Linked DNA regions of Homo sapiens. The protein of the gene in region 1 purifies or fractionates together with the protein of each later gene. This does not show direct contact. Each region holds a gene or a part of one and is shown on either strand. Other genes may lie near its edges. The genes, in order: ATAD1, COQ8B, XXYLT1, ANKS6, PRMT8, SLC2A12 and GOSR1.

The links.
Region 2: the proteins of ATAD1 (region 1) and COQ8B purify together in Homo sapiens (co-immunoprecipitation; one large-scale study listed by IntAct). This does not show direct contact.
Region 3: the proteins of ATAD1 (region 1) and XXYLT1 purify together in Homo sapiens (co-immunoprecipitation; one large-scale study listed by IntAct). This does not show direct contact.
Region 4: the proteins of ATAD1 (region 1) and ANKS6 purify together in Homo sapiens (affinity purification with mass spectrometry, with the first as the bait; one large-scale study listed by BioGRID). This does not show direct contact.
Region 5: the proteins of ATAD1 (region 1) and PRMT8 purify together in Homo sapiens (affinity purification with mass spectrometry; one large-scale study listed by BioGRID and IntAct). This does not show direct contact.
Region 6: the proteins of ATAD1 (region 1) and SLC2A12 purify together in Homo sapiens (co-immunoprecipitation; one large-scale study listed by IntAct). This does not show direct contact.
Region 7: the proteins of ATAD1 (region 1) and GOSR1 purify together in Homo sapiens (affinity purification with western blotting; one study listed by BioGRID and IntAct). This does not show direct contact.

Annotation. Positions count from the first base shown.
Region 1 is NC_000010.11:87,787,227-87,790,726, forward strand, and holds part of ATAD1 (outer mitochondrial transmembrane helix translocase), read right to left. Parts: intron 3,205-3,500; coding exon 3,084-3,204; intron 1,904-3,083; exon of another isoform or gene 1,839-1,903; coding exon of another isoform or gene 1,814-1,838; intron 1-1,813. UniProt on the Homo sapiens protein: Outer mitochondrial translocase required to remove mislocalized tail-anchored transmembrane proteins on mitochondria.
Region 2 is NC_000019.10:40,699,887-40,703,386, reverse strand, and holds part of COQ8B (atypical kinase COQ8B, mitochondrial), read left to right. Parts: intron 1-693; coding exon 694-787; intron 788-2,935; coding exon 2,936-3,077; intron 3,078-3,212; coding exon 3,213-3,320; intron 3,321-3,500.
Region 3 is NC_000003.12:195,268,360-195,272,382, reverse strand, and holds the start of XXYLT1 (xyloside xylosyltransferase 1), read left to right. Parts: upstream 1-1,223; 5' UTR 1,224-1,324; coding exon 1,325-1,828; intron 1,829-4,023. UniProt on the Homo sapiens protein: Alpha-1,3-xylosyltransferase, which elongates the O-linked xylose-glucose disaccharide attached to EGF-like repeats in the extracellular domain of target proteins by catalyzing the addition of the second xylose.
Region 4 is NC_000009.12:98,786,556-98,790,055, forward strand, and holds part of ANKS6 (ankyrin repeat and SAM domain-containing protein 6), read right to left. Parts: intron 1-3,500.
Region 5 is NC_000012.12:3,494,203-3,497,702, forward strand, and holds part of PRMT8 (protein arginine N-methyltransferase 8), read left to right. Parts: intron 1-3,500. UniProt on the Homo sapiens protein: S-adenosyl-L-methionine-dependent and membrane-associated arginine methyltransferase that can both catalyze the formation of omega-N monomethylarginine (MMA) and asymmetrical dimethylarginine (aDMA) in proteins such as NIFK, myelin basic protein, histone H4, H2A and H2A/H2B dimer.
Region 6 is NC_000006.12:133,987,081-133,990,352, reverse strand, and holds the end of SLC2A12 (solute carrier family 2, facilitated glucose transporter member 12), read left to right. Parts: 3' UTR 1-2,772; downstream 2,773-3,272. UniProt on the Homo sapiens protein: Insulin-independent facilitative glucose transporter.
Region 7 is NC_000017.11:30,515,408-30,518,907, forward strand, and holds part of GOSR1 (Golgi SNAP receptor complex member 1), read left to right. Parts: intron 1-3,500. UniProt on the Homo sapiens protein: Involved in transport from the ER to the Golgi apparatus as well as in intra-Golgi transport. It belongs to a super-family of proteins called t-SNAREs or soluble NSF (N-ethylmaleimide-sensitive factor) attachment protein receptor.

The DNA.
Region 1 (3,500 bases):
TTATCTTAAGCTTTATAGAGGCTTAAAAATTTAAACTCCTTTTTAAGACGGATGTTTTTGGTAATGGCTTTACTTAGTAAGTGCTATATGCAAATAAAAGATTTAGGAAGAGGATGGGCACAGTGGTTCACACCTGTAATCTCAACACTTTGGGATGCTGAGGCAGGAGGATAACGAGCCCAGGAATTCAAGACCAACCTGGGCCACAAAGTGAGACCCTGTCTCTACAAAAAATTAAAACATTAGGCAGGCATGGTGGTACATGCCTTGCAGTTCCAGCTACTCAGGACCCAGAGGCAGGAGGATCATTTGAGCCCAGGAGGCTGCAGCAGTGGGCTATGGTTACACACTCCAGCCTGGTGACAGTAAGACTCTGTCTCCAAAAAAAAGGATAAGAACAAAAAAAGTATTGGGATACACAAATCTAAATTTGAGATAATCCTCATTTGTGACAAATATTCCACCTTATTAGTGACTATTTTTCTTTTTTGGACAACTGTTTATTGGCTTTAACATAAAATTTGTCCAAATGGTGCAAAAATACACATCTATATAAATTAAATCTACTTAAATATAAAGTACTTGAGAAGAATATGGGTCTTTATAACAGAAAATCTATTTTTAAAATTATTTTTTTCCTTAGGTTACTCACAATTTAAAGAATGCACCAAAACATGAAGTATAACATTCACAAATGTAATAAAATTTATATACCAAAATAACAATACAGAATTCAGAAAGTTTACAGAGGAAGCCATATGGTATTCAGATGGATTTTGTTGGAATTTTAACTGTTGTAAATTTTTAGACGTTTGAGGGAAAAAAATCACTTTTTAAATATAACCGTCAATATCTTATGTGTGCCCCCATTTCCCTGTCACCAATTAGCGGCATCATGGTGTGCATTAGCTTCAACTTTGTATCTATACACAATAGTTACATATGACCTCATGCACTGCATGGATACTGCAGTCACTCTCCAATTATCTTTTTGTAGTCTGTGTGAAGCAGTGATCACTTTCAGCTCAGATAGCAATAAACTGTCTAAGGATAACATAAAATTGTCAATAACTCTAACCTAGGTAACCTAGTTCCAGTCCCAAAATGGAACAAACAAGGATGCATCTGATTTTACACTCTGCTTCTATACACCAATATCCAATTTATATTGAGGGTCAAAAAGTAAATTAATGATCTTCAAAACTGTTATTCTTGATTAAAAATTGTCCAGACATAAAGGTGAAAAAGTTCAAATAGCAAAACTTTATATAATCAGAAAATATTCATGTAACTTTTAAATTGGACAATGCTTTCAAATAAGAAGCAAATTTACATATAACTTTTGAAGTATTCCCTGCATAATTTGGTATCCACTCTGCTAAATGGGTCTTTAAACCAAGTCCAACTGGAGAAATCACCCAATTACCTGGTCTAAGATAACACTGATAAAAAAAGAAGCTTTCTCCAACAGCATATAAAAGGTATTTTACTTTCCTAAATTCACTAGCATTGTCCAATTGAGAACTAAAAATGCAGAAAAGTCATTTTTTGTTCAGACTACAAATAACCTGGAAGAGGGTAGTAAAGACTTAACTAATCCAACTATAGCCATACATTTTTGATCTGGGCTCAAATAATCATTCAAAGTTTTTTTTGCGGCAGGGGGGAAATCACAATAAACTGAGTGTTTTGTTAGGAAAAACTATAAGCAGTGTTGTTATTTCAGAAAACAAAAAGAAATACCTAATAGCTTTGTTGTTTTAATAATAAAAGAACATGTCATTTTTGCTGTTAACTGTCATCCTCCACTTACCAGAAACAAAAATTATGTAGTTCATAAAAATGCACAGGTACAGGCTTCAGTTACCTTTGATATGTAAATTAATGCACTTTATTGATATAGCTGCAAATTTAGAAAGATTATAAGCATTATAATTTAAACATACATAATGCTATTTTGATATTTTTAAAGATCCACTTTTTTGAAAAATCAATGTGACTAATAATTTAAGTCTTGACTAACAACATATCAAACCCATATAGTTTTGGCAATGCATTAGATAAGAGTTTCTGCTAGATGAAAATAAGCTATCTCGTGAAATTTGGATCTGAACGCCATAGTAACACACACATATATCTCTCACTGTAAATTATTTACACTCCATCTGAATCACCTTTAACAAGCCTTAAGCATGACAGAAATATGTGCACTAGCTGGGCACAATGGCTCATGCCTGTAATCCCAGCACTCTAGGAGGCCAACGCAGGTGAAGAACTTGAACTCAGGAGTTCAAGACCAGCCTGAGCAACATGGTGAAACACCATCATTACCAAAAATATAAAAAAAGAGCCAGGCGTGGTGGCACATGCCTGTGGTCCCAGCTACTCAGGAGGCTCAGGTGGGAGGATCACTTGAGCCTGGGAGGCGGAAGTTGCAGTGAGCCAAGATCATGCCACTGCATTTCAACTTGGGTGACACAGTGAGACCCCATCTCAAAAAGAAAAGAAAAGAGAGAAAAGAAAAAAAAAGAAAGATTTGAATGAACAAGAATTACACTTAATGATGCAGTTATGAGCATATTCAATTCTTGAGTTCCAAGACTTTCAAAGTGATTTTGAATAAGCAAACATCTCCATCAAAGTTAAATATTTAATTTCTAGTTCATCTGCAGATAAATATTTCCTGAAAAAGAATCATTACATTCTAAAAATAAGATCGTTGGAGCTGTGAAACAAGAAAAAAATGTCTTGGCTTGAAAACAAAACAAAACAAAACAAAAAACTTGTATTATGACTTTGAATCTTTCTTTAATCTTGATTTTCCAAATTTTAATTTACTTGGAAGTAAGAGAAAAGAAATTGAAGGAGATTATTTTAACAAGTATTTTAACATGTAAATACAGGAAAAAGTTTATCTCAATTTCAGAAGCTGAAGAATGAGCAATTATTTTAAGAAACTGTTCACATAGATCTCAGCATCCTCTTGAGAATCTGATTTCACAAAAACTAGTTCTACAATGGCAGAAAGTTTCAATGTTTTCTAGGATTTTAATGCTTTAGGCGAATATATACCTTTACCATACCTTTTGGAGGCTGCAGAAGCCTGGAATTCTCAAACAAATGTTTCTTTTTGATAGGTAAGATGACTGTGTCTTTCAGATCCGTAATGACATCATCTAAACCTGCTATATCACTCCAAGTAACCTGGCAAAAGTTAAGGTCAACATGAATTTTACTACAAATGTACACTCACTAAAGTAAAAAGAACGCTCCCAAAATTACAAATGTTAATCTGATGATTATACATAAATAAGTTAAAATCATATATTAACATAAGTAAAGACTTTTCCAAGCAGTAATGAAATAAACTGCTATGAAACTGGAAAAAGGAATTTAATAGTCAACTATCTACTATTAAAAATCTGTAAGTCAGGTACTCAAAAATCTGCAAGGGTCTAATAAGCTAAATTCATTCCACTTGTAAGGAGAAAATACTCTGC
Region 2 (3,500 bases), on another chromosome or scaffold:
CCCAGGGAGCATGAGCAGGTGTGGGAAAAGCCTTATGGATTTTAACAGAGCCTTAGAGAGACGGGAGCCCAGGGCCAAGATACAGCAGCAGACTCTCAGAGGGTGTGCATGCAGGGAGCGGGATTGTAGGTGCGGCAGAGCAGAAAAGGACAGTCCTGGGGATGGCACGTGAGGAGGCGCCTAGAGAAAGGAGGGTGGGTTGTGTTTGTGTAAGAGACGGAGAGGGAGAGGGAAAGCCAGGCCCAGAAGTGAGATTCAGATGCAGTGAGCAACGTGAGAGTCAGTATGAAAAGGAGACAGAATAGAGGCAGGCGTGACTCTGAAAGAGCTGCCAGGGACTGGGGTGCAGGCATGTGCAAGAGACAGAGCCCAGAAAAGGCTTCGGAAGACCCCGGGGAACCCTGTGGTGCTATGAAGGACGAGGGAAATGTGTAGACAGATGATACGATGCAGGTCAGAGGCCTGGAGCAGGAGCTGCAAGGGGCAGCGGGGGAGACAGGAGAGGGACAGATGCAGGTCAGAGGCAGGAGCAGGAGCTGCGTGGGAGACAGGAGAGGGACAGATGTGGGTCACAGGCCTAGAGTAGGAGCTGTGAGGGACAGCGCGGGAGACAGGAGAGAGAGGGTTGGCAGGAGAAGGCATCCACCAGTGGGCGCTCGGGGCCCTTCCCTGGCTGACACACCTCCCCCACAGGCCTGTTTGCCGAGCAGAGCCTGCAGGCCTTGCAGCAGGAGCTGGCTTGGGAGTGTGACTACCGTCGTGAGGCGGCTTGTGCCCAGAATTTCAGGTGAGCTGAGTGCCCTGAGCTTCCCTCCTTCCCTCCCTCCCAGGCTGGGTGGGAAGTAGCTGCCCCCTCAGCTTCTGGCAGCTGGAGCTGTGGGGTAGGGCAAACTCTCTCTTTCTTTCAATCATTGTTCATCCATCCTTCCACTCATCCATCACTTCGCTTACCCCCTTTGTCCTCTGTGAGCTTGGGCAGGTCACTTCCCAAGCGGCAGTCTTCTCCTGTGTCAGATGGGCCGCATATCCACTGTGGTCCGACACAGGCACTTAATTAATTACACAATGACACACTCTTACCTCTGCTGGACTGACGGAGAGCAAGGAGCCCACAGCACTGGGAGGTAGAGAGAGTGGGCTCCACAGCATCCCTTCTGCACTGCAGGTTGTGGGAGAAGGTGGTAGAAGCATTTTGAGAACAGGTTGGCATCATCACATAAGCCCTTATATTCAAGAACTCTGCAAGCCAACGATTGCCCTCCCTGCTGAACACTCTAGGGACCCTTTTGCCAGTATCCATCATCAGACTGTTCTAGAACGCTTGTCTGCAACAGCCCCAAACTGGAAACAACCCATATCCATCAAGTTTATCCAGCAGGGTGGACAAATAAGCAACGGTATATTCATCTGTGGAATATTACGTAGCAGTGAAAATGCATGAACTATGGCTACGTGGAACAATGTGGTTATATCTTGGAAGCATCCTGATGTGTAGCAATTAATGGCACCTCAGTGGGGTCCTCCACAGTGTGGCTCACACATTTATTGACAGCCTAAAACGTGCCAAGCTCTGTAGACAGAGAGTGAAAGCTCAGTAGAAGGCAGTGGTTAGAGGCACACACCCTAGACTCAGATGCGGGATGAAATCCTGGGTCAGCCCTTAACAGGTTACGTGGCCTGCATCCATACAATCTGTACAGTGGCCTCCAGAGAGCATCCCCTCACTGTGGAGTGAGGATGAAAGGGGAGTGTGCCGATTAAATGCCCCACATGGCTCCGGTTCATGAGGAGCAGTTCAAACATCAGAGATTTTTATCAACAAGGACAAAAATACAAACCCCAAAGGAGGAGCTCAAGGAAGAGAGTGTGAAGTGGGGTGATGGGCCAGAGACCCCCCCGTCCCCCACAGGATTCCCGGGTGCCCTTAGGATAAAACCCCACACCACCCTCCTGTTCTCCCTCACTCTCCTCCAGCCATCCCACGGATCCTCAACCAGAGACCTTGCTCATATTCTCTGCCTCCCAAATCTTACATAGACATACTTCTTTTATTTTTTTGAGACAGGGTCTCGCTCTGTTTTCCAGGCTGGAATACAGTGGTGAGATCACAGCTCACTCCAGCCTCGACCTCCCAGGCTCAAGTGATTTTCCCACCTCAGCCTCCTGAGTAGCTGGGAACATAGGCGCAGGCCACCACGCCCAGCTAATTTTTGTAGTTTTTCATAAAGACGAGGTTTCACCATGTTGCCCAGGCTGGTCTTGAACTCCTGGGCTCAAGCGATTCTCCCACCTCGGTGTCTCAAACTGCTGGGATTACAGGTGTAAGCCACTGCACCCAGCCAACACACTTACCTCAATCTATAATCCGTCTGTTTGTGAGAGTGTGGTCTCGGGGTTGGGGGCCAGGTCCAGGGACTGGTTCATTCACTGCTCTGTCCCCAGCATCATTTAGCACAAGGATGGACACAGAAGATTCTTTCCCGCTATTTACCTGTGTTCAGAGTAGTGATTGCAAGGACTGACCCATGGGTATCACTATAGACTTCACAGATTTTGATACCAGTGACTACTTTTGGGATGAATGAATTAATAAATTAATGAAAAAGTAATGCAAAGGCTGAAATACACCTGAACTCATCCTTCTGGGGCAACCAGAAGTCATAGAAGGGTTTCGGGTAGGGAAGTGGTGACTGGGTTTCCAGCAGCACCCAGTTGAGAGGCAGGTGCAGAGTAGGCACCTTGGAGATACTTGTTAAATCTCAGTCCAGCCAGGTGTTGGTCATCACCCAGGGCAGACAGCAGCAAGAGATGGGCAGGAGGGAGGGCATGGCGCAGACTGTTCATGGAGGACTTCTGAGAGCACAAGGAGGAGGTCTCAAGCTGGGTCACAAGCCTGAAGCACGAAGTCCCCTTCCTCCCTTTCCTTCTGCCCCAGGCAGCTGCTGGCAAATGACCCCTTCTTCCGGGTCCCAGCCGTGGTTAAGGAGCTGTGCACGACACGGGTGCTGGGCATGGAGCTGGCTGGAGGGGTCCCCCTGGACCAGTGCCAGGGCCTAAGCCAGGACCTGCGGAACCAGGTATGCTGTCTGGTGGCACAGTGGGAAGGGCATGGCCCCAGGGCGGGTGGGCCAGGCTCATGGTCTCTCTCCAGGCCAGCAGTGGCACCACAAGGGAGATCACACTGAGATGCCTGTTAATTCTCCCCACCCCAGATTTGCTTCCAGCTCCTGACGCTGTGTCTGCGGGAGCTGTTTGAGTTCCGATTCATGCAGACTGACCCCAACTGGGCCAACTTCCTGTATGATGCCTCCAGCCACCAGGTTGGTTCCTAGTGATGTGTGTCTGGGTACATTTGCTGTTGTAACAAATATTCCTTGATATTTCGGTAGCTCAACAAAATAGCAGTTGATTACCCCCACAATAGGCAGGGGTGGCCCTTTTCCAAGTGGGATTCAGGGACCCAGCTCCTTCCCTTTTGTGGTTTTGCCATCCCTGGGGCC
Region 3 (4,023 bases), on another chromosome or scaffold:
GAGACTCATCCAATGTGGTAGGCACCGTGTTAGGTACTGGGTATATTGTGGTTAATAAAAAACAAATGTATATTCTGTTCTCTTGGAGTCACGTGTTCTTGCAATGAAGAAAGATGAGACTAGGGTAGTACATATATTTAGGTGGCCCTCACAGAATTATTGAGGATGGCACTTAGCCCAGACACTGGATAGGAGGTATTTAGAGATCATTTGTGTAGGTAGTGACATGTAAGCCAAGGTCTGAAGCAGAGAGGTTGGATAATCCATGCAACCTTACAATGTGGAAATAACAGGAAAAACCGTTTACCTAATCTCTGGTCAGAAATCAGAGAACTTGGCCAAAGAACTGAAGGGTTACTGTACTTACTCAAGTTCTTTGTCTATTTAGACAGCATGCACAGCACTTGCACGTGTTTACTTAAAAACTACTGGTATAGCCTCAATTCTTAGAAGACTGAAGTTAGTACGTTTTTATCTAGTTAGCAGTGTGCAACTGCCTAGGGTCAAAATTGCTACTGGCTAGCTGTGTGACTTTGGGCACGTGACCTCGGCGTGCAAAACTCCCTGGTACCCTCAAGGAGGCTCTTGATAAAGTGTTAAAAGTCTGTTTATAAAACAAAAGTGGATGAATGTCGCCCTCCAGGGCTTTGCGGTGCTGGGGCTCGGGGAGCAGCCTCGCAGGTTCGTGCGGGCGGCGGGGGCCCCCTGCTGGCCACATCCTCCAGCCTCCCTCCGCTCGGCCTCCGGCGCGACGTGCGGCCCGGGCCATTTCCTCCCAGGGCGGGGGAAAAGGGAGGAGCTGCCGGTTTAAATTGCCTAGCTGCAGCTCGTGTGCAGGGAGAGGCCGAGACGGCTTAAAGCCTCCAAGAAATTGAGGGAAAAAAGGTGCAGAGATTAAAGTTTTACCTCTTGGTGCCTCCAGCTTCGCTTTTGGCTAACCTAAGTTCCTCTGTTCGGGCGCCTCCATTCCCTTCAACACTCAGCTTGGATATCCTCTGGGGCTCGCCGCGTAGGGCGCCATTTCTCAGCCGGGACAGCGGGCCAGCCCTCAGCACGCTGGAGTCCGGAATCCCCCCCTCCCAACGCCGGGCGCCGGATCCCACCCTAACCCCTCCTCTAATACCCTTGGAACCTAGGACCCAGCGGTTTCGGCACGCCCGGCCCCGCCCCTCCGCGCACCGGCGCCCGCGATTGGCTCCAGGCGGCGCGGCCCCGCCCCTTTCATGGCCGCCGCCTGGCGCCGGGGCTAAGTGGCCGCCGGCGTCCGGGTACCCGAGGGCTCTCCCGCGTTGCTGGCACCGCTGGCGCCGCGGTCTCGTAGCGCATGGGCCTCCTCCGAGGCGGGCTCCCATGCGCTCGGGCCATGGCGCGCCTGGGCGCTGTGCGCTCCCACTACTGCGCCCTGCTGCTGGCCGCGGCGCTGGCCGTCTGCGCCTTCTACTACCTCGGCTCAGGCCGGGAGACCTTCTCCAGCGCCACCAAGAGGCTGAAGGAGGCCCGCGCCGGGGCTCCCGCCGCGCCCTCGCCGCCCGCGCTGGAGCTAGCGCGGGGCTCCGTGGCGCCAGCCCCCGGCGCGAAGGCCAAGAGCTTGGAGGGCGGCGGTGCCGGGCCGGTGGACTACCACCTGCTGATGATGTTCACCAAGGCGGAGCACAATGCCGCGCTGCAGGCCAAGGCCCGCGTCGCGCTGCGCTCACTGCTGCGCCTCGCCAAGTTCGAGGCGCACGAGGTGCTTAACCTTCACTTCGTGAGCGAGGAGGCCAGCCGCGAGGTGGCCAAGGGCCTGCTGCGGGAGCTCCTGCCGCCCGCCGCTGGCTTCAAGTGCAAGGTGAGCGGGCCGCGGCTGGGGGCTCCCGGTGGGTGGCCCACCCCATCCTAGGCGAGGTCAGTTTGCGCTCCCGGAGGGGATCCGGGGAACTAGCGGGTAGGATCTTCCCTGAGCTGCCCGCTTGCAATGTAGTGTTCACAACCTGCGGGAGGGCTCGTTCGGGGGCGTGTCCGGGAGCCAGACGCCCTCAGCTGGTGCTGAGGAGTGGAGCTGCGTTTTTAATGACCGCCTCGTTTTCCTCTCCCCCAGTTAAGCGCAGCCCCCAGGAGAGTCCGCGCGCCCCCATTTTGCTAACGTTGCAGGGTTCAGCACTGCCTTCAGAGTCTGCACCTCTGTTTATGTTCCTCAGTTTTTGACTTCTGAGGATGGGACTGGTCACCAGTAGTCATCCTGAGCAACTGGAGAGGGCCTTGGTGAGGCCTCTGGAAGTGTTGAAGTTGCAGTGACACTTCTCATTGCTCTTAAGGTATTTCAGTAGGATCTGGTCAAACTCATTGTGAACCATCTTATCTCCTCTCTGTGTCCCTTTTTCCCCTTCCTCCAAGGGTCATGAACCCATTTAGAGAAGCCTGGAGTTCCTCCGAATGAGGAAGAGAAAGCTCAAGAGGAACAGATATGATCTGGGGAGAGCACAGCTGGCCGCCTTGTCCCAGGCTGGACCAGTCTGCCTCCATGACAGCTTCCATCTCTGTTTATCATCTGTCTTCACTGCCTGGCTCTCCTTGTCTGAGATGTGTTTCTGACATAGTGTGAATTGCCTAGGTCAAATTGCTTATTTGATTTTGACCTAATAGTTGTACAGAGGGGATCCGAGGCCAGATTTTAAGGAGTAGTAGGTAATATTAAAGGGTGGAGACTGATGTTGGTTGGGGAAGCATGCTGAGACAGGAGTTGTATTATGTGAGTGACTAGGGGAGCTGTTGCCAGGATCCTACAGGCTTCGGGAGTCTCTGATAGCTCCTTGTTGCCTACGGGGTGAAGTCCCAGTTTATTGGTAGGGCTGTTGTGTTGTGAGCCTGGTCCACTTCTCTGGCTTCACCTCTCCTCCTTTGTCTACATGCACCTCATACCTTAGCTATGTAGGGAGTGGGCCTTATACATGCTGTACTGTCTGCCCACAGTGTCCTCTTGGGCCCTTGGCCATTCTTTACTCAGCTTTCACCTCTCCTGAGAAAGTCCCTAGACCCTGGGACCTCTGAAGGTCCTCGCTGGAGGAGGAGCCTGGCAACCTGTCCCAGGTGATCCTAATGACCCTAATATTTGAGAAACTTTGCACTAGTTCACGGTAGAAAACTGAGGGCCCTTGGCCATAGGGTCAGTCTGGGCAGATCTTGGGATTTGACCAGGTCTCCAAACACCGCCTTGAAGATAGCATTGTCATCTCTTCTGGGCCTACTCTGCACCGTTGCCGGATCTCTGTCCCCTTGTCCCCAGCTCCCGCTGCAGCGCTAGCTGCACAGCCAGTGCTTTCCAGCCTACTTGCCTTTGCTTTTGTCATTCCCACTGTTGGGGTGCTCCTTCTCTCCATCTCCAAGTCTTGCCCATCTTCAGATACCATCCCCTCCTTGGAGCCAAGGAAGCGTCCCTTCTTTCCTTTTCTACTTCCCTGGTGCTGTGACTGTATCATGTCTTATCATCCATCCCTATGTACAATGCCTGGCACTCTTAGTTGGCACCAGAAATATTGGCCCAGGGGTAGATCCAGCCTCAGGGCCGAGCCCCTCCTGTCTTGGAGTAAGTGTTTCATGCTCGGACTACCCCACTTTACTGGGCCCAGTTCTGGCAGCCTCACTCAAGGCCTGGAGGCAGCTGCAAATGACCAGAGGGAACTGATACCTCCTCTGTTGAGGGGTGAGGGTTTAGTGTCTGGGGACTTCTAGCCAGATGTCAGTGATTGGATAAGGGGTTATCAGTCCTGGCATAAAATTGCTCCCGTTACTTCTTTTTTTTTTTTGTGAGATGGAGTTTCGCTCTTGTTGCCTAGGCTGGAGTGCAGTGGCACGATCTCAGCTCACTGCAACCTCTGCCTCCTGGGTTCGAGCGATTCTGCCTCAGCCTCTCGAGTAGCTGGAATTACAGGTGCCCACCACCACGCTGGCTAAATTTTTTGTTTTTTTTTTTTTGAGACAGAGTTTTGCTCTTGTCGCCCAGGCTGGAGTGCAACAGTGTGATCTCGGCTCACTGCAACCTCTGCC
Region 4 (3,500 bases), on another chromosome or scaffold:
CTGGGATTACAGGCGTGAGCCACCACACCTGGCCAGAATCCCAGAATTCTTCATGGAAAGTACGGACACTGCCATGGGACACAGTATATCAATTTTGCCTGTGAAATACTATCAAGAAACTATTCTGCACCTGACTTTTAAAAAAAATATGTCATGTTCTTTCAAGTATTCAAGAACCAACTTTGCTGTGGGGTGGGGTCTTCTCATGCCAAGACCTTTTCACAGAAAAGAGTGTCACCTGGTCTTAGTGTTGGCTGCTAAGCAACCATCTGACACAAGTTAATCACTGACAGCAGAGCCTGGCCCCAAGAGGCAGGGGCAGCTGTGTCCTGACACCCAGTGACTCTGGGCAGGTCCCTTCCTCGCTTTGGGCTTCAGTTTTTTTCGTCTATATCCAAGCAGTCCCAGGGACCCTGCCCCAACCCAAGGAAAAGAAATCAGCTCCAACTCCACACCACAACCTCAGTGGGGAGTCAGAGGTGTCGCAATGACAGTTACAGCATCAAAAGTACCCTGTCCTGCTGCTAATGAAAGGCAGAGACCAGGGGACCTCCAAGGCCTTGGTGGGGGCTGGATTTCCGGGAACTGCACAGTAAGAGCTGGGGCTCCTATTATTTATTTCATAATCTGTCATTATCAATAGCACAGCCTGCACCCTACCTGGGGCTCTTCCCAGGGATCCCCCAGGGCCAACACACTCCCTCAGGTCCTGCATGTCTGCTGCAGTCCCACCTTCTCAAGGTTGCCCAACCACTCCATTTGACACAGCAGGATGAATTGTCCCAGCTTTGCCACACCCAACCTCTTTACACTGCCCTTTTTTTTTTTTTTTTAACCCTGTGGCACTTACCACCTATCCTACTATATATTTAATATGCTTATTTCCTACTGACTGCCTGTCTCCCCTTATCAAGGCCAAGGTCCTCAAGGTCAGGGATTTGGATCTCATTTGTTCACTGATGTATCCAAAGTGCCTAGAAAGGTGCCTGATACATAGCAGGCCTCAGTACGTCTTTGTAAAGTATCGGAATGAATGTATCATCAATCAAAACATAATAGTTTCCATTTATTGGATGTCGTCTATGTGCCAGGGCACTGCGATGAAAATTTTACAGGCCTGATCTTACTATTCCTCACAAAAATCTCCCAAGAAAAGAGCCTTTATTATGACTATCTTATGAAAAAAGACACTGTAGTCCTGCAGGGCCAATTAAGATGACCAAGACCACCCAGGTACAGAGTGGGAGAACTGAGCCTCAGACTAGTTCTGCTCAATGGGAACATGACCAGATCCTGCTGGAAGACCCGAGGTTCGCTCCTGTCAAATAACGCCGACAACACTATGGAGTAATCCACTTCCCATGTGCTCCCTCTGGGCCAGGCAGGATCTCACATGAACCCCACAGCAGCCCTGAGGCGGGTATCACTCCAGCACCCATTTGTGGAGAAGGAAATGGGAGCTTGGTGAACTGAGGCAGCTGGTTCAAGGTCCCTTGGCCAGCAGGGGCACAGCCAGCATCGAACCAAGTGGACAGTGACCTTGGCCACATCCACCAATGTGTCTGAGCCACTGCATCTTGGGGAAATGAGGGCATCGCCATCCCATGATGCCAGGACAACCCCTAAAATGAGGCCTGTCAGAAGCTAAGCCCGAGGGCACTCCGTGAAGATTCAAGATGCAGAGGCTAAGGAAACCTGGGATGGAGAACGCATGCACAACAGAAGAGGCACAGCTCGGCAGGCACGGGCAGGTGCAAGTTCTGGAGTGTTCACTTCTGAGCCTGAATTCCCTCCCCTGCAAAATGGGGGAATACCCTCCTCAGAGGGTCCCTGCGAGGGTGAGGGGAGATTCAGCATGGCAGGTGTGCTGGGCACGGCAGGGCCTGGGAAGGGCAGATCCTTTCCCCATCCCTGCCACAAACAACCCAAACCTTTAAAGGAGAGCAATGGCCTTGTGTCAAAAACAAAAACAAAACAAAACCCTGTCCTAGGAGACTGGGGCCCTAATTTCTAATAGCAAGCCTTTATGAGTCCCTAACACTCTACTGGGCTGAGTATCTCACACGCCAGAGGATAACCTGCCTTCTGCTCACCACCACCCCGTAGTAGTTGTCATTGTGTCCATTTCACAGATGAGGCAAAGGCTCAGAAGAGTCATGTGTTAAACCAGCTTCTAGAGCCCATGCAGGAGCTGCAGGTGGGAGAATCACCTCTAGGTGCTCTTCCCATGGAATCCTCACCTCCTGAGTGTCACTCACTCAGCTTCCAATGGGTGTGTGACCTTTGACCAGCTTTCTTCCCTCTCTGGGCCTCAGTTTCCCACCTGGACAAAGTAAGAGGTCTCTTGGCTTCAGGTAGTTCTTCCTAAACTTCTTTTTCCTTTTCATTTGAGCATCCTCTTCATTTTTGCCACCTCTCTGTCATTACAGGCTTTTAAAACATGTTTATTTCAGACTTGTTCTGATTGGATGGTGTATTTCTTTTTTTTTTTTTTTGGAGAGTGTATTTCTAATAAGCATTTACCAAATTTTCAGCATCTCTTGATTGATGGGGCTATTCTATATTCTTTCAATGGTAACAAACTTAACACTTTCAGGTCTTTTTAGCCAATGTGCCTGAAGCTACTTTCTTCAGTGCTTGACCTCTCAGAGCTAGATGTTTATATACACTGCAGCCCACCTACTGTTACTCCCTGGCTGTGAGTCCTGCCGTCGAAGTCAGGCCTTTTACATAGACAGAGGGTACCAAGGCTGTGTGTTGCGATCTTATTGCAAACCGTGCATTAAAGGTTTTGAAACGTGGTATGTCCTATGGCAGATTTGCTAAGGATTGTTTAGACAACTCTTTACATGCCAGAGAGATGGCAAGAAGTTAAAAAAAAAAAAAAAAAAAAGATGCACTGCTAGATGTTTTTTAAAAAACTAATTTTCATCAATTTTACATGAACTAGTGTTTGAGAAATGATCAGGGCAGAGGAGGTCAGGCACACTATTGTAGAACAAGGGCTGGCAAACTATAGCCCATGGCTCAAATATATCCCACTGCTTGTTTTTGTAGTTATAATTTATTGGAACCTAGCCATACCTGACTCATTTACATATTATATGCATAGCCACACCCATTCATTTACTCATTACATATGTAAGGCTGCTTTCACTCTAGCAGAAGTGACTACTGTAGTTTTAACAGAGACTGTATGGTCCATACAGTCTATTTGGCCTTTTACAGAAAAAGTTTGCCAAACCTTGTTGTAGAAGGGCCCCAGAACCACCTGCATCAGAATGATGTGCTTGGGGAGAGCAGCCTTGTTATAGAGGCTTCCAGGCTCTTGCCCAGGGCTACCAAATCACTCTGCAGAGAGTGGGCCCAGAACCTGCATGTCACAGGCAATCCCCCCGATACTTAAGCACACCACTTCCTCAGTCTCAGTGGTCTGCAGGGCTGGACTCTGAGTTCTGCGTGTCCTTCCAGTAGAGCAATCCTCAGCTTAAGCCACATAA
Region 5 (3,500 bases), on another chromosome or scaffold:
CTAGGTACCCAAGTTCCAAACATGAGGACCACCTGGTCCCTCCTCTGGAGGGGCTCACAGTCTCATGGACAACTATGATGGATAATCCTGTAGCCACCTTTTCCTGCTTTTTGTTGTTTATCTCATTCCATCCTCACAACAATCCTGTGAGATAAGCAAAGATTAGTATTCATTTCTTATACCCATTTTATAGTTGAGGACACCGAGGCTGAGGTCAAGCAATTGCTGAAAGTCTTCTGGTGGGTTAAGTCAGCCCTGAAACACAGACTGCCCCCACTTCTGATTCATTGCTGTTTGCCCTGCCCTTGCTATTTCTAACAAGATGCCATGTGTGAATGGGAGTAGATGAGGAGTGGGCAGAGAGGAATACTTTGGAAGGGAGAGATGCAGTGATGGAGGTGGGCAAGGATGGGAGAAAGTGTTCGTTCAAAAGCTAAAGCTACGGAGAGATACTCTAACCATTGGGCAGGAAGGGAGCAAGTGAAGAATAAAACTACTTACATTTTGACCAAAGCCTCCCTCCACAAAGCGAAGTACCCAGCTAGGGTACGAGAGCATCAACATCACGTGCTTGCTGGACACTGTTGGCAATGGGTGGCCCTGGGGGCACTCTTCAACCGCTCTGACCTCAGTTCCCTTCTCTGTTAACTTGAGCTGATTCTCCTCATGGAATAGGGCAGGTATGGGTATAAGGAAATGCCAGGACAGCCCCTGGCACATGGCAAACACGCAATAGTGTTAGTTCCATGTACGCTTTCTCCTGATCACTCAGCTATGCTTCTCTTCCTCGGCTAAGGGAATCACCATTCTGCCAGCCTCTTCTCCCTCTCCCCTGTTCCCTAGGTGTCATGAGAAACCTCCTCTGTGGCCTTCTGGAACATTTGCAAAGCCTCCAGTCCCACTCTCCTCTTCAGCCCATTGTCAGTGCCCAAGACACATCATCTCACCTCTGCCCTCACTAAGGCACTTTCCTCTGAACTGTTTGTCCTCTTCTCTAATCAAGCCTCATAATCCTACTGTACTGGATCAGCTTTCTGAAGCACAAATCTGCTCATGATCAGGCATCTCTTTAAAAACTTAGGATGCTGTCCTATTGCCTACAGGACGCTAGATAAAGCCCAGTTTCCTTAGCATGGTGTGCAAAGCCCATCAATACCTGCATCATGCAATTCTTGGAAAAGACCTCCGACTGCATATGTGAATGCTTCTGTGCATACTCTTCCCTCTGCCTGTGCCGGTCTTTCCTCCTTCTTCTCTCTGGAAAACAATCTTTTTCAACCTGCAAGACCCAGCTCAAACGTTACCTCCTCTGGGCAGGCTTCCCAGATCTGCCATTTATCCTCTCTCCCCAGGGAGGGGCATTACCCTTTCTTATGTGTTCCTAACGCCTGTCTCTCACTTTTCCTATTGCAAGATAATTGGCTTTTTGTGTGTCTATTTATATGTCTATTAGATAATGCACTTTTTTTTGAATTTGTGGGCCTGACACACAATAAGTAATAAATGTTAATAAATGTTGACTGAATTGATGTATGTGATTGTGAACAAACTCTTGAGCCTAATGGGCTTTAGTCACTCATGGCTTCCTGGAAATTGGGATTCCTATCTCCCACCCCACCTGTCTGCTGTACTTAGTTGCTGTGAACCTTTGAAACTCAAAATGGGTAAATATTCTGGGAATCAAGGTGCTGAAGCCAGTCAAATCATGGGTACATTTTGGTTATTCATGTACTTATTCAATATTCAGTAATTATCGACTCTTACTATGGAGTGCTCATCTGAATAGCAGATAAATGGATTAATCACAATGCCCAATTATGAACCATGGGGGATAATGGACCCTCCTGAGCTACTGCTTGCTTTACTGATACTTGGTGAAAGTCTGATGCATGATGCATTATTTATGGCGATGACTCCCTGATTAGGGTTTTATCACCTCAAAGGAGAGCCCCCAGGAGTTGGGAAACAGTTTTAGCAAAGAGTCACTTTGGAAACTGATATATATATATATATTTTTTTTTTTTTTTTTTTTTTTTTTGAATGTTCTGTTGACTTGCTGGCCCAGGGAGAGGGAATAATTACAGGTTGGAAAAAATCCTACAATGTGACAATGAGATTAGGGGTTGCAGTGAGTTATGGGGATAACTGAGCTGACTTCTTGCATGGTGTATCTTGGTGGTTTTGGCTAATAGATCTTTCTCCTCAGGAAGTTACTTTCAGCTGAAGAATGTGGTCCCATTATTACAGGGGTTAGGGAATTGAGGAAGAGGAGGAACCAGGCATAGTTCTCTGAGGATGGTCTTCATCTATGTCTGTTTCTGCAGAGTGTGTACACTAACTAGTAGGCTATGGAGACAGACTTCCTGGTTTTCAATCCAGTTCTGGACCTAGTAGATGTGTTGCTACATTGAGCAAGTTGCTTAATGTCTCTGGGCCTTTTAAGATTGTTGTGAAGATGAAAAGGGTTAATTTATGCAAAGGAATTAGAACATTGCCTTATACATGGTGAGTTCTCAATAAGCGTTTATGATTATTATCCTGCTAGCTTTTAGGAGTCTTGCCAAAAAAGTGCAAACTGAAAGTATTCTCCCACTTTCTCATTTCTGTAGCTGAAATGATCCATAAAACCATAGTCCATGTGACTTTTTCCTCCCTCCGCAAACACTGATTTCAGTCCTTAAGTGAGCTCAGGAGAATTAAGAAGATACCCAATTTTTTTTTTTTTTTTTTTGCCTGGCTAATTTGGCTTTTCAGAGTCCTAAATTGGCTTTTGGCTGTCAAAGACAGTGAAACACAACACTCCTGTCTCCAATTCAGGAGTGGGTTTCATTTCCTCCTCTTTGCTAACTGCAATGTGAAGTGATTATCACATACCAGTGTGGAACATGCAAAAATCTGTAAAAACAGTCCTTACACCTTGGAGTCTACTCTGCCAGCAGGGGGAAAATGGGCAGCCTGAAAATATGTGAACAGCCAAGGTAACTGAAAGCAGCCTCTGTGTGTGAGAAGCAAGCAGGTGGTGCTGTTGTGAACTGGCTTAGTAACAAGATAGAGTGAGCACAGGCAAGAAGGGACCTCTGAAAGGTCATTCTGTCCATGCCTCTGTCCCTGAGAACCACCTAACCGAAGATGCATTGTTGGCCACTTGGTCTCTTGTTAAAAAGCTTCAGAGAAGGGAATTTCCCCAAACTCCTCGAGTGTCTCAGTAGTCGGAAGTTCTCCCTGAAGTCTGAGCTCAACCTCTTCGATTGCAATCTGAGTCACCTTCGTTTATGTTATTCTAAAAAGAGATGAAAACTGGCTGCTACCTTTTCATTTGGGGTTGTCTCACCATTTTTACTAGTTTTTGTTCCAATTGATTCCAATCCCTTTTTCTGATATTCTGGTATTAGACTTCTAATAGGAATAGCTAGGAGAGGAGTGTTTGAGATTTGCCTCTCCAGTATTATCCAGCCAAAATAGCCACTGGATATTTCACACATCAAATGTCTTTTCTTACT
Region 6 (3,272 bases), on another chromosome or scaffold:
TATCCAAATCTCTAAGCAATTAGGTTGAAGTTATTAAGTCAAGCCTAGAAAAGCTGCCTCCTTGTAAGGCTTTCATGACAATGTATAGTAATCCACAGTGTCCAATTCTTCACACTCCTCAGGAATATCACTACCTCAGGTTACGGTACACAGGCTATAATTGATGATGATGTTCAGATAACTGAAGACACAATAAATGACATTCAGACATCAGGACAATTCCCTCATGTTCTTTTCTATGATGGCCACCTGTACCAGCAACGTGGGTTTCACCCACACAACGATGAACTGTTCTCTTACTTCTCCAGTTGATTTTAAAGACTTGTTAAGAGGTCTTACTAATAAAATTTGGGTATGATAGAAAATCCACAATCAAATCTTGAACCAAATAACATATTAAATTACTAATATTTAAGTGATGGAAGACACACAAAAAACTTAAAAGCACGAACAACCTAACTTGAAAAAGAATTTTAAAATATGATTAACCTGAAGAAAAGAGAATCCTAAGAGCCAAAGCTCCTTTTTATTTAGCTTGGAATTTTCCTATTGGTTCCTAACAAACTGTCCCAATGTCATATAAGGAAACATGATCTATTACATTCCTTTATAACAATGTGGAGAGACTATAAACCTATGTAAGTAGTAAAACTATATCAGAGACTCAGGAGACTGACTAAAAGGCCTGGATCTGCAGTGTATTATCTGTATAAAAATTGGCAGGGGGAAGCTAAAAGGAAAGGAGATTGGAGATCTCAATTCTATCATGGTGTATTTCATACGCAAATCAGAGCATGCATTGTTTTTTGTTTTTGGAAAGAGAAGGGAAGTGTGTTCTGCCCCATGTTTCCTTCCGTGTTTATAGTTCAAACTCTATATATACTTCAGGTATTTTTTGTTTAGCCCTTCATTATAAATGGGCAGGAAATTGTTTATCAACCTAGCCAGTTTATTACTAGTGACCTTGACTTCAGTATCTTGAGCATTCTTTTATATTTTTCTTTTATTATCCTGAGTCTGTAACTAAACAATTTTGTCTTCAAATTTTTATCCAATATCCATTGCACCACACCAAATCAAGCTTCTTGATTTTCAAAAATAAAAAGGGGGAAATACTTACAACTTGTACATATATATTCACAGTTTTTATTTATAAAAAAAATTTACAGTACTTATGGAGAGCCAGCAGAAGACATCAGAGCACTCACTTCTTCCCATCTTTGTTAAGGTTAGCGAATTACCCATGGACACTGTTAGGTGAGGCTCATTCGGCAGCCCTGAAAACAAACCTGGTCACACTGTCTTTACCCTCTCCCTTCAGATAAAGCACTTCGATTATCTATTGATCTGCCCAGTTTTCAAGTCATGCGAATACTAAAAAGGTTACATCATCTGGATCTGTACCTTGGCTATATAAGCATGTTTTCCCCCTATTCTATGTTTCTTTTTTTGGTGAACATTGAAAAACAGGAGGTGACTTATTACTGTTAATTAAAACTAAATGAAAAATGTCAAGTCTTTAAAACAGTGAGCTTGTAACTCTTTCATGTAATTTTATTCTCTATGAATTTGGCTATCCTACTGAATCTTAAAATAAAGGAAATAAACACTTTTTTTTTAAAAAAAAGGAAAAATACAAGTCTAAAAATCTCAATGAAATATTTCACAAGAAGGAAAAATGTAAGTTAGCCTTTGCTTTCCACTTTGGAATAAGCAGGAGGTTAGGGAAGGCATTGAGAAGAAAAAAGATAAAAATAATATGTGTTGTTCAGTGCAGTGCCTAAGCTAGGTTTTCAAGATTTTATAATACAGTAAGGAAAATGTACTATATATGGAGATTAGGATGTTGCAATTTTTCCACAAAGGTTTAAAAACATTTTGGAAATACAAGTTTTTGTGGAACATTGTGTTGGAATATTGTCCCCATTAAGTTTCTCCTGAGAAGCTAATTGGACTCTCCACTCAGCTTTATTTCTAGGTATAATCACTGTTGGTTACACTAAACTCCTAAACCTAAATGACAGGGCACAACTACAGCTTGATCCTGTATTACCACATCAGGGCTCCTGGGTGAGCCAGAGACACTGTTTCATAAATGCATATTTATTATAACTTTAAGAGTAGCAATCTCATATACTGAATAGTCACTCTTTAACTCCATTAAATAAGATACAGCAAGGGGAAGGACAGTATCACACAAAATGGCTTTCAAATTCAAGTGGGGCTATTTGATAATTACACTGTGGCACAGAGGCAGCTTATGGGCACTTCTTGTTAAAACATCTCCATGTTACCAACTTCTGACAAGACTCTTAGTATAGGCTTGGGCATCAACCCAAGATTAAAGTCAAGAACCTCAATCACTTCTCTACAACTACAGGTGTTGAGTCTTTCCAGAAAAACAAAGGTCCAAATGAGGCACCATTCATCACAGCTTCTTTCTCATTTCCATCTAGTGGGTAAGAGGTTTCTCTTCTTAAAACTACAATTTCTTAACCTTTACAAGTTATTTAACATTTTCTATCATATTAAATTAGCAACATAAAACATTATCCTTTATCTATAAACTTCTAGTCTGGTTCCCTAGAGTTTATATACACGTTTTTATTTCTAATCTGCAAGAAAAAAAATTCCTATTTGTTATTTGGTAACAGAGCATTAAAAGATACTATACACATGTGGTGCATATATATATATATATATACACACACACACACACACACACACAAAATACACTTCAAAAAGAAGCCAACACACTTTAGCCAAAGTCTTAAGCTTGCATAGATTTTAAAAAAAAGAAGTATGAATACAATTTTTGTTAAAATAGAAAATGGGGAATAAAAGTTATAGAATGAAGAGAGATCTTTTCCAAACTTTTATTTGTGCACATTCAATTGAAAAAGATAACTTTTACAGGTTCTTTGGTGCCCATATTCAGCATACAAAAATGTAAAAGACTATTCACAAATAAAACACATTAGCTCAAAATGGAAAAAAATAACAATGACGACAATAAAACAATCTAAGGTAGTGCACACTGTGACAGCTCTGCTTATGGGGACATGAGAATTACTGCGAAAATAAATAGAATGTCCTTTTGTAAAAGCAGCAATATCATGTCTTGTAAACTTCCTTTTATATTACAGCAAGGTTTGGAATAAAATCCAAAGGGACTGGAGCTTACACTGTAGCCGTGAATGAATAAAAGAGTCTATTTCCTCAATTATTGTTGGTCCAGTTTTCCTTTTGAGTCCAATGTGCAGCAGGTTTAA
Region 7 (3,500 bases), on another chromosome or scaffold:
TGTTAGGCCTCACCATGCGTGATCAGGCGGACCTGGCTGTTTCACTGGGGACTTCAAATTGCCAGACCTCTATGTCTCTTCTCCTGAGCTAGGTCTTCTACTGGACTAGGGGCAGCCACCTAGCTGCATGCGTTAGGAAGGGCAATTTTGGGTTATGGCAACTCCTTGTACAAATTTCTACAAATCTCCATTTTTAACCCTACTCCACAGTTCTGCCCTCAGAGAGAGTGATCCCTTCCATTCTTGAGCATTTCTGAGATCTGTGGAAAACTTTTTAAAATCATTGCTTGACTCATAATTTTATTGAGGTGCATCACAGTGGTGGATTTGGAGCTGCTAATGTATTTTTTTGTTTGTTTTAGTTTTACCCAGTTACATTTCTTTATTCTGAAATGTCATTTCAAAAGACCAGACCATAATATCTCCACATGAACAGATATTTTTCTAGAATAGGCCTAAAAGTATTGGGAAGATGGGATTGTCAGCATTAAAACACATAGGAAATCAGGACCCTGGAAGAACTGTAATATTCTCTAGGACTTTTCATTTTCTAAATTTGCAGATATTGCCTGTGATTTCAGTTGAAAGTGATCCAAATCCTAGTGTGTCCATGTTAATTGTGTGTGTAGCTTCAAATGTTATTTAACGTTTCTTAATCAAGTGGAATTTTTCTAATGTTTTCATTTTTCTTTTATTAGACACTTGTATATTGTATATTATACAAGTACAGTGTTCTTATTGTAACAACTTAAATAATACTAAAACGGATAAAGAAAAAGTCAGCCGGGCGCGGTGGCTCACGCCTGTAATCCCAGCACTTTGGGAGGCTGAGGCGGGCGGATCACGAGGGCAGGAGTTCGAGACCATCCTGGCTAACACGGTGAAACCCCGTCTCTACTAAAAATACAAAAAATTAGCTGGGCGTGGTGGCAGGCGCCTGTAGTCCCAGCTACTCAGGAGGCTGAGGCAGGAGAATGGCATGAACCTGGGAGGCGGAGGTTGCAGTGAGCCAAGATCGCGCCACTGCACTCCAGCCTGGGTGACAGAGCAAGACTCCGTCTCAAACAAAAAAAAAGAAAAAGAAAAAGTCAGTCTCCTGGTAGTACCCCTCCATTCTTAACCCCTGAAGCAACTTGTGTTAACTGACAGTTGTGTATCCTTCTGATACCTTTTTCACTGTCATACAGACATCCCCAAAGATGTTTGTTTCTGTAATTATTAGAGGATTCATATTCTATACATTCTGTGGCTTGCTTTAATCACTCAATATGTTATAAACATCCCTTCAAGTTAATAGAAATACTAACTTTGTTTTGTTTTGTTTGAGACTGCGTCTTGTGTTGTCACCCAAGCTGGAGTGCAGTGGCGCGATCTCAGCTCACTGCAACCTCTGTCTCCTGGGCTTCAAGTGATTCTTCACCCTCAGCCTCCCAGTAGCTGGGATTACAGGCGCTCACCACCACGCCTGGCTAATTTTTGTATTTTTAGTAGAGAAGAGGTTTCACCATGTTGGCCAGGCTGGTCTTGAACTCCTTGGCCTCAAGTGATCCACCTGCCTTGGCTTCCCAAAGTGCTGGGATTACAGGCATGAGCCACCGCGCCTAGCCCTAACTCATTTTTTTAAATACCCAAATACTATGTAATCACTGCCTGTGATTTCAGTTGAAAGTGATCTAAATCCTAGCATGTCCATGTTAATTTTGTGTGTGTGTGTAGCTTCAGATGTTGTTAACATTTCTTAATCACTCAGGTGGGATTTTTCTAATGTTCTTTTCATTTTTCTTTATTAGATATTTATATATTATCGAAGTACATTTGTATATTATCAAAATGTTCTTATTGTAACAACTTAACTAATACTAAAATGGATAAAGGAAAAGTCAATCTCCTGGTAGTACCCCTCCATTCTTAACCTCTGAAGTAACTTGTGTTAAGTGACAATTGTGTATCTTACTGATATACAACTTTTTCACTGTCATACAAACATCCCCAAGGGTGTTTGTTTCTGAAAATATTACAGCATTGATATTCTGCACATTCCGTAGCTTGCTTTAATCACTCAATATGTTATAAACACCCCTTCGTGTTAATAGAAATAATACTAACTCATCCTTTTTAATAACCAAAGTATGGTTATATCATAATCTATTATACCATTCAAATGTTACTTCCAGTTTTGGGGGATTTTTTTTTTTTGGTCTTTTTGCTGTTGTTGTTCATTTTTTACTATTCCAAAAATGCTTCAACAAATATTCTTTTACAGATTGAATGTTGCTTATCCAAAATACTTGGGACCAGAAGTCTTGGGGATTTCTGATTTTCAGATTAGGGATGTTCAACCTGTATATACCTCCTTACACACTTTTGTTTCTCTTTTGCCATCTCAAATCTTGAAATTCAAGTTTTGATTCATGTGTCATTTGTTTAGAATATTCCTTCTAGCATTTCCCTTCAATAAGATACATGGTGGTTTACTCTGTGAGACCTTACCTGGCCAAAAATGTGTTCACTCAGCTCCCAGATAGATCCAGCTATGAGAGCCTCTTAAGCAATGGCATATCAGGCAGTGATGCATCCATCACTGGGCTCTTCCCTTAGGGGCTGGGCATCACACCAGCTACAAGACTATCGGCTCTCTGCTTGTCATCTTTCTGGCTGCATGTAGCAGTCCTTTCCCAGCTTCAGTGCCTGGGAGCAATTTCACTGCAACCCCTGTGTATGCAGATCCATAGTCTTCCACTGTCTGGGTTCCTCAGGAAGCAAGGAAGCCCTAGGTCTTTGCCTCAAGCTTGAAGAAAAATCTAAGCTTCCCTGCTGTCAGTTCCCTGGTTCTCTCTTCACTTCAGAGAGTATAGCCCTCTACCTGGCTTTCTTCCCTGGAGATCTCAAGGGAACTTGGGGCCTCAGATGGACCCTCCTTAGTGTGTCTGCTTTTATTCTTGTGCTACTCCATGGAGGAAATGGACCAAAGGTCAAGTCAGGAATTTATACTCTCACCATCATCTTCCCCAAATCTCAATCTCTTGATTTAAAAAAAAAAAAAAATAGATATTTTCAAAATTGCTCAACAGCATTTCATTTTCTGTTGCTATTTATAATGTCAACATGCAAAGCACTCCTCTGAGTGTTACATATCAAAGTGGATACTGACCCTGCCCTCTAGGGCTCTAATGTCCAGAGAGATAAGACTATGGGAAATGAATAATCCTGGAAGTGATAGCAAAATGATACTAACTTAGGGCCAAGCTTGGTGGCTCACACCTATAACTCCAGCACTTTGGGAGGCGGAGGTAGGAGGATGGCTTGAGCCCAGGAGTTTGAGACCAGCCTGGGCAACATAGGGAGACCCCATCTCTAGAAATAATTTAAAAATTAGAAAAAAAAAATTAGCCAGGCATGATGGCACATGCCTGTAGTCCCAGCTACTCAGGAGGCTGAGGTGGGAGGATTGCTTGAGCCCAGGGAGTCAAGGCTGCAATAGCCACAGTCACACCACTGGG